2 separate regions of the Homo sapiens genome follow, and region 1 is linked to region 2. Evidence: fine-mapped expression QTL. A gene starts in region 2. The other region holds a variant in brackets. All regions are shown on one strand. Distances are between the middles of the regions.

The links. PIP is the estimated chance that this variant, and not a neighbour inherited with it, causes the effect.
Region 1: its variant is fine-mapped to the expression of DEPDC5 in whole blood (TOPMed, PIP above 0.99). The same link has a PIP of 0.9 or more in blood mononuclear cells.

What each region holds. Positions count from the first base shown.
Region 1 is chr22:31,813,548-31,817,939 of GRCh38, reverse strand. DEPDC5 (DEP domain containing 5, GATOR1 subcomplex subunit) reads right to left here. Exons shown (of 43, transcript NM_001242896.3): 21 at 2,728-2,948. It also overlaps the pseudogene RPL17P52. Among named protein-coding and RNA genes, the nearest start is that of DEPDC5, 62 kb to the right of the region's middle. The variant T/G (reference allele first, on the strand shown) is at 2,514.
Region 2 is chr22:31,752,069-31,756,460 of GRCh38, reverse strand. DEPDC5 (DEP domain containing 5, GATOR1 subcomplex subunit) reads right to left here and starts at 2,442. Exons shown (of 43, transcript NM_001242896.3): 1 at 2,297-2,442; 2 at 1,482-1,599. The coding sequence starts at 1,539. RefSeq lists a silencer at 2,368-2,677.

The DNA of each region.
Region 1 (4,392 bases), 61 kb before region 2:
AGAAGAGAATGTTCAGATTTCTGTGAAAGTTTTACTGTTCATTGTAAATTAATGAATTGATGCTCTAACTTACAAAATAAAAAAGAACATAGTCTAGTTAGTTATTAAGGAAATAAAAGAGAAAAACCTAGTAAAAAAAAAAAGATGAGTACAGGCCAGGTACAGTAGCTTATTCCTGTAATCCCAGCACTTTGGGAGACCAAGGTGGAAGGATCACTTGAGCCCAGGAGTTCGAGACCAGCCTGGGCAACAGATTGAGACCGTCCCTACAAAAACTTTAAAAACTAGCCGGGTGTGGTGGTGCACACCTGTAGTCCCAGCTATTTGGGAGGCTGAAGTGGGAGGATCACGTGAGCCCAGGAGGTTGAGGCTGTAGTGAGCCAATATTGTACCACTGCACTACAGCCTGGGCAACAGAGTGAGAACCTGTCTCAAAACAAACAAATAAAAGAAACCACCCATGAAACTGCTCAGGCCATCAAGGGTATGCATATATAAAAAGCCACCAAGTATATGAAAGATGTCACTTTGGCCAGGCAAGGTGGCTCACGCCCGTAATCCCAGCACTTTGGGAGGCTGAGGTGGGCAGATCACCTGAGGTCAGGAGTTCGAGACCAGCCTGACCAACATGGTGAAACCCCATCTCTACTAAAAATACAAAAATTAGCCAGGCATGGTGGCAGGCACCTGTGATCACAGCTACTCGGGAGGCTGAGGCAAGAGAATTGCTTGAACCCGGGAGGCAGAGGTTGCAGTGAGCCAAGATCACGCCATTGCACTCCAGCCTGGGGGACAAGAGTGAAACTCCATCACAAAAAAAAAAGAAAGAAAGAAAGAAAGAAATATGTCACTTTACAGAAACAATGTGTACCATTTCCACATTACAATGATGGAGATAGTAGGTGGTCCCAGGCCACACAGCACGGCTGCACACGGGGTCAGTGGCCAAAAAAGAGTACTGAATTATTGCTACATATGCTTAAAAATGCACAGTCATGCCGAACTTAAGGGTTCAGGTGCAGATCCTCTGGTCATTGAGCATGTCCAGGTGAACAAAGCACCCAAGATGTGCTGCCTGATGTAAAGAGCTCATGGTCAGATTAACCCATACATGAGCTCCCCCTGCGAAACCAAGATGATCCTCATGGAAAAGGAATAAATTATTCCTAAACCAGAAGAGGACATTGCACAGAAGAAAAAGATATCCCAAGGCCAGGCATGGTGGCTCACGCCTGTAATCCCAGCACTTTGGGAGGCCGAGGTGGGTGGATCATTGGAGGCCAGGAGTTTGAGACCAGCCTGGCCAACACGGCAAAACCCCATCTCTACTAAAAAAACAAAAATTAGCTGGTGTGGTGGTGTGTGCCTGTAATCCCAGCTACTTGGGAGGCTAAGGCAAGAGAATCACTTGAACCCAGGAGGCAGAGGTTGCAGTGAGCTGAGATCATGCCACTGTACCCTAGCCCGGGCAACAGAGCAAGACTCTGTCTCAGAAAAAAAGAAAAGAAAAAAAAAGAAAAGAAAGAAACTGAAGAAACAAAAACTGATAGTATGGGAATAAATTCGGTACAAAATCAATGCAAATAAAAGTTAAAAAAAAACAGGTAAGTGAAAAAAAAAGTTTTTTGTTTTTTTTTTTTTGAGGTGGAGTCTCCCTCTGTCACCCAGGCTGGAGTGCAGTGGTGGAATCTCGGCTCACTGCAACTACGCCTGCCAGGTTCAAGTGATTCTCCTGCCTCAGCCTCCTGAGTAGCTGGGATTACAGGCACCCGCCACCACACCTAGCTAATTTTTGTATTTTGAGTAGAGACGGCGTTTCACCATGTTGACCAGGCTGGTCTCAAACTTCTGGCCTCAAGTGATCCACCCGCCTTGGCCTCCCAAAGTGCTGGAATTACAGGTGTGAGCCACTGCGCCCGACCGGTAAATGAGAAACTAAAATGCAACATTAAGACAGAGGTTGTTTTATATATGGCACAAATGGAAATCATAAGGAAATAAACCCTTTTGACCCTAGGCCTAAGAAAAGCTTTCCATTAACATATGGAAAGGCATACAGTTAAATGATGGATGAAGAAAGGCTAAACAAAAAATAGTATAATAGAGGCAGGGTGCGGTAACATTGGTTCATGCCTGTAATCTCAGCACTTTTGGAGGCCAATGGGTGGATCCCTCGAGTCCAGGAGTTCAAGACCAGCCTGGGAATGGTAAAACCCCACCTCTACAAAAAAAAATATGATAATCAGCTGGGTGTGGTGGCATGCTATAGTCCCAGTTACTTGGGAGGCAGAAGTGGGAGGATCAATTGAGTCCAGGAGTTCAAGGCCGCACTGAGGTGAGCTGTGATTGCATCACTGCACTTCCCCACCTCTACAAAAAAAAATATGATAATCAGCTGGGTGTGGTGGCATGCTATAGTCCCAGTTACTTGGGAGGCAGAGGTGGGAGGATCGATTGAGTCCAGGAGTTCAAGGCCGCACTGAGGTGAGCTGTGATTGCATCACTGCACTTTA[T/G]CCTAGGTGCTCTGTCACCAAAAAAAAAAAAAAAAAAAAAAGAAGTATAATATATACATAGCTAACAGCTAAAGTGATTTGTACCTACTGCACTGGCAAAGAAATCATTAAGATGTGGGATTTACACCCCACCTCTGACCAATCCTCCCACCTCCAGTCACCCACTATATTAAGAAAGATGTCCCTGGCTCTGTCTGTGCTTCAGCACTCTTACCTCGAGTGCTGGTGTATCCCAAGGAGCTGCTGACTTCATACTGGTGCAGGTGGGGGTGTGGGATCATCAGGATGTTGGCACTCTTGCCTAGGGAGCTGTCGTCAGAAGCCTGGCTCCTCACTTCCTCAGTGGGCAGTGTGCGGCTTGGTAGGGAAGGGCTGGATGAAACATCACAGGAGCTGGCACTCTTTCGACTGTGACTCTCTCGCTCTCGCACAGATCTGCCAGGCAAGAGACAAAAAGTTACCATCAAGCGAGGGATGCTGTCCTACCTTGAGTTAAAACTAAAACCCATCACCAGCCCAAGCCACATGGAACCCAATAACAAAAATCCCCAGTGTGATCTACAAGTGGGAAACCTGTATGCGGTACTTCACCCTTAACAGCTTGAGATGTTATATAAGAGAGGGGGGAAATGACAGACATTATGCAGCCAAAGTCCTAGGATCATAGTTGTAAAGAAAGGACTGCTCCAGGCTGACCCCACCTAATCCCACTGATTAATCTCTCATCACTAAAAACAGAATGAGAAGAGAGGTATGATGTGATGTGGGAGAAAGAACATAGTGCCCAAGAAGTCTACTTGCCCTCAAATTTGAATCTAAATCTAATCAAGCTTCCAGAGATAATTGCCAGTTTACAGGGAATCTGCAGAATAGAGGAAAACTGAAACACTACAAGGCAACAATCAGCCAAATGTAGAAAGCAAGACATTCTACTGTCACACACACACACAAAAGGCATTATAACCAAATGCAAAAAGTGGATCTTGTTTAGGTCCCATTTCAAACTAACTGCAAAAGCACATTTTTGAGGCAATTCAAAAAACTGACTATGCACTGGCTATTAGAGGGCATTTAGGGATTAGTGTTAATTTTGTTACCAATGATAATGGTACCGTGATGGGTTTTCTTTTAGTTCTTATTTGTTGAAACATATACTAATCAGCTTTGTGCCAGGCTGGGTGACACTAAATAAATAAATAACATGTAAAAAAAGAAAGAAACTTACGCTGAAGTATGTATTATTGAAAAAAAATAGAGGCTGCCTGGGGTTTGTTTTGTTTGTTTGTTTTTGTGAGACGGAGTCTCACTCTGTCACCCAGACTGGAGTGCAGTGGCATGATCTCAGCTCACTGCAGCCTCCACATCCTGGGTTCAAGTGATTTTCCTGCCTCAGCCTCCCAAGTAGCTGAGATTACAGACGCCCACCACCACGCCTGGGTACTTTTTTCGTATTTTTAGTAGAGACGGGGTTTCACCACGTTGGTCAGCCTGGTCTCAAACTCCTGAACTCAAGTGATCCACCTGCCTTGGCCTCCCAAAGTGCTGGGATTACAGGTGTGAGCCACTGTGCCCGGCCAATCCTGGGATTTGTTTTTAAAATATTCCATCCAAAATTTAAACGTGGGAGAGGTCATGAAACAAGGCTGACAACATGGTGATAACTGTTCATGATACTATTCTCTATTTGAGCACGTCTGAACATTTCCTAATAAAAGTTTATATATGCATATATATATATATATATATAGCCTTATTAAAACATAAAATTCCCTAAGGGGAAAACCTCTAAAAGCAACAGGAAGAAGGATCAAAAAGAAAGAAGCCCTATAGAGAAGCAAAAGCTCAGAACGAAAAAGCAAGCCCACCAACGGGGCTGCCC
Region 2 (4,392 bases):
CAGCATCAAAGTAATAACAATAGACTGTGCATTTTAGCAGAAATTGTAGTTTAAATATAGCAATGCCTGTAGCCTGGTAATTACAATGGCTACATTTATTGAGCACAGAGTCTAACACTCTGCTAAATGCATTACATGTATCACTTTACTTAAGCCTCACAATGCTCTATGATAGAGAAACTATTGTTTTCCCTTTTTGGCAGTCCTTCCCCTCTGGAGGCTTATACCTACATAATGTAGAAGTAAATACACCCTAAAATACAATGTTAAAAAGACTCATGCCAGCGCGGTGGCTCTTGCCTGTAATCCTAGCACTTTGGGAGGCTAAGGTGGGCGGATTGCCTGAGCTCAGGAGTTCGAGACCAGCCTGGGAAACATGGTGAAACCCTCTCTACTAAAATACAAAAAAAAAAAAAAAAAAATAGCCAGGTGTGGCGGCATGCACCTGTAGTCCCAGCTACTCGGGAGGCTGAGGCAGAAGAATTGCTTGAACCTGGGAGGTGGAGGTTGCAGTGAGCTGAGATCACGCCACTGCACTCCAGCCTGGTGACAGAGCGAGACTCTGTCTCAAAAAAAAAATGCCAATAAATAATAAAATAAAATAAAAAGATTCATTATATTGTTAACTCCAATTTCTGAAGTAAATAATGCTGTTAAGACAGAATGGAAAATTATTCCCTTACAAAAGAAAAAAAAATTATACTAAGTGCCCTTTTATTCTTCAGATTTATGGATTCAAGGCACTAAGGAGAGCTGGGTACAGTGGCTCACGCCTGTAATCCCAACTATTAGGGAGGTTGAGGTTGAGGTGGAAGGATCTTTTGAGCTCTAGAGTTCCAGACTAGCCTGGGCAACATGGGGGACCGTGTCCCAAAAAAAAAAAGAAAAGAAAAGAAAGGAAAAAAAATAGATGTTAAGAGAAACTATTCTAAAGCCCTTCAACTTTCAGATAAGGTACACTAGGAGCTTGCCCAAGGTCACCAGGAAAATTAGAAGCAGAGTAGATACTCAGACTATAGCTCAGTGCAGAATAACATGCTGTATCCTGCTCCTTCTTCCCATGCCTACAAGCCAGGCAAAGGTTCATGCTTTGATCATACCTGCTCTATGCACATCTATGCCACTTCTCTCTCACTCAATGTAAAAACTGATAAACGATTTTAGTTTCTCTTATCTGCCAAACCAGTGCAGGCTGGAATTTTATGGAACATACACGGAAGATTTGTAATTAATAATGCAATTCAACAAATGAAGGGTAGTAAACCGGCAGCATTCACAATGTTCCTTAAAAGTCTGAATGCAAATGCATTAGAAGGGTCCTGCCATCCTCCTATTGTTACTGTATGACAGTTGCTGCTTTAGTCTGTTTAGTCGCCTGTTTAGCCTCAATTGTCACACGAGTCAGTGTGTAATTTCTAGGTATTGCACACACCAGAACCTCAGCCAACTTACAAAACCTCTAAAGACCAATCGATACTGACCACTGCCCCCAAAGCCCTTCTTGTGGATGACGAGTTTGTAGACCTTTGTTGTTCTCATCTTGCACTGTTTTTCCCTTTAGCTGTTCCAAGCTTGGGGCAGAGAAGTCATCTTGCCTCCCTGCCACAGAAATACAAACGAAAAGGTTGGAATGTCAGATTTTTCCTTGCAACCACTCTTTGATTTTAGGCCAGTGAAGATACTGGTGTTCCTCTGCTGTGAAGTGGTGCCAAGTGACTCTCGGAAGAAGTCACTCCTCCAGTTACAAGGAGCGATGGAGAACAAATAGAACCACAGAATCCAGGAACTAAGGGGAATTCGGGCCAGGGGCTAGTCAAACCTAGGAGAAGATATTCTATCACACCCCCATAGGGGAAGCATTGCGCTGAATGGGTGCTCATCACCTTGTCTCCATCTACACCAATAACACCCAAATAGTAAAGAGATCTTAAAAGAGGTTAGCCCACTCATTTTGTAGATGATGAAAGTGTGACTCCGGGCAAGGGACTTGCTCAAGGTCACTCGAGACTTAAGAGACACTCCCACCATTCTCGTTTTGCTGCCAATGTCCTGAGCAAGGCAACCACAAAGAGGAGGAAGGCAGAAGTTCCTTCCCCAAACCTCGGTCTGTGCGAACTCTCAGCAGACCTTCCCTGACTCCGTTTCACAGCTGAGGCCGTTGAGGCTCAGAGAGGGAGAGAGACTTGTCCAAGGTCACACAGCGGAATGGGGATGGAGCCTGGAACTCGAACCTGGGCCAAGGTCCCCTATCTCAAGCCCCCCCAATCCCCAGTCCGGGGCGGGCAGCTCCACTCACCGAAGCTCTAGAGCCCCTTCCCGCCTCTGGCCGGGGCACTGAGGGCTGGACCCTCTCCAGGTTCCCTGCGCCTCCTCCAGATACCCCGCCTACGCCCGCGCGGCCCGCGCTGTTCCGCCCCTAAGCCTGAAGCGCCTACTAGGCCCGCCCCGACCGTGTAGCGCTCACCTGAGAACCCGCGCCGCTCCGGTGGCTCCGCCCCGGGGCCCCGCCTCCTTCCCGCCCTCGCGCCCCCGCGCCGCTCTCGCCGGGCCTCCGTCTCGTCTCGGTGGCCGCACCACTTCCTCATCCGGGGCTCGAGCCGGGGGCGGGGCGTCGTGTGCGGCCTCTTCCTTGGGCCACCTCCTGGCGTTTCCTGCCCTCGAGCACTAGAGCCTCCCGCCCCACGGAGGAAATCCATTTCCTCCTAGTCTATCCGAAGTAGATCCATGGCCACAGAGCTTCGTTTCCGACTCAGTGATCTCCCCACAGGGGAAACGAGATCCGTCAGAGCTCCGTTTTCTGTTATATGAACGAGGTTAATGACTCATGTGGCCTCATTGGGCAGCTAAGAGGCGCCAACGAGAGTTTCTGGGAGGACTTCTGTAAAATGCAAGGGGCTGAGCACGCGAGAGTTAGGGTGATGGCCTCTGCTGGGAAGTGTCCACTTACGGGGGGCTTTTCAAACCCTTGCAAACTCTAAACGACGTTCTGCGCCCCTCAGGTTATTAATAAGAATGGCTGCCGTGGCTTCATAGTCCTTATGTAATCATTGCATCCCTATTACCTGATGGATGCAGGAGGCAGATACTATCCTATTTCACAAACCAGGAAACAGCCTGAGGACACAAAACCCTTCAGAAGGAAGCAAGGACGAATCCTGACCCGTTCCCAGAACGGGGCCTTTAACCAACATCCTTTGGTCATACCCAGGGCACTGCCTAAACTCGCGTCTGTCAGGATATCTTTCTCTCCAAGCAGAAAACCAGAGAGCTGGGTGGGCTGGGTCAGGCTCTGGCCAAGGACTCCTGACAATTGCCAGCTCCGCCTGCTGCCACTGATACCCCCGCCCCCTAGTCCAGTCCACCGTTTCTGACCTGAGCGGCAGCAACTCGATAGGGACTCCCTGCTTCCCCTCTTGAAGCCAGAGAGACCTTATAACTAGAATCGGTGTCTTGGGTCACGCCTCTCCTCTGCTGCTTCTAATCACACTGACTGCTAAATCTAAACGACACAGCACTTGTCTTAAATTTCTTTATATCTTTAATACTAACAGTGCCCATTTCTTACGGATTTGGAAAACTTAAAAATGTTGAAAGAAAAAACATGTTACACTGTAGTGAAAGATTCTGCAGTGGACCAAGGGGACCCTGGGACAGGACAAGCAACGTTCTTAAGCATGGATGCCTTTATGTTGGGACTCAGGAGAAGTTAGGTAAATAATGCAAGTGTTAAGTAATTGCAATTTTTTTGTTTGTTTGTTTTTTTGTTTTTGTTTTGAGATGAGGTCACCCTCACCCAGGCTGGAGTGCAGTGGCATGATCCCGTCTCACTGCCATCTCTGCCTGCCTGGCTCATGCGATCCTCCCACCTCAGCCTCCTAGTAGCTGGGATTACAGGTGCATGCTCAGCTAATTTTTGTATTTTTTGTAGAGACGGGGTTTTGCCATGTGGCCCAGGCTGGTCTCAAACTCCAGAGCTCAAGTAATCCGTCCGCCTTGGCCTCCCAAAGTTCTGGGATTACAGGCACCAATCACTGTAGCCGGGCCTTTTTTTTCCCCCAAGACCAGGTCTAGCTCTGTTGCCAAGGCTGCAGTGCAGTGGTTCTATCATAGCTCACTGCAACCTCAATTTTCTGGGCTCAAGTGATTCTTCTGCCTCAGCCTCCCAAGGGACTGGGACTACAGGCCAAGCCACCACTCCTGGCTGAAATTGTTTATCTTGTAATAAAACATATGTGATACAGTGGATTGCAACAGTTACAAAATTTTTTAAGAATAACAATGTTATGTTAAAAAATGTTTCTATGTTGCCACTTCAGGAGATACACCTAGATCCCCCAAGATAGTTTTTGTCTTTAGCAATGGTGGTTGATGGGACATTCTTCCATCCCTGGG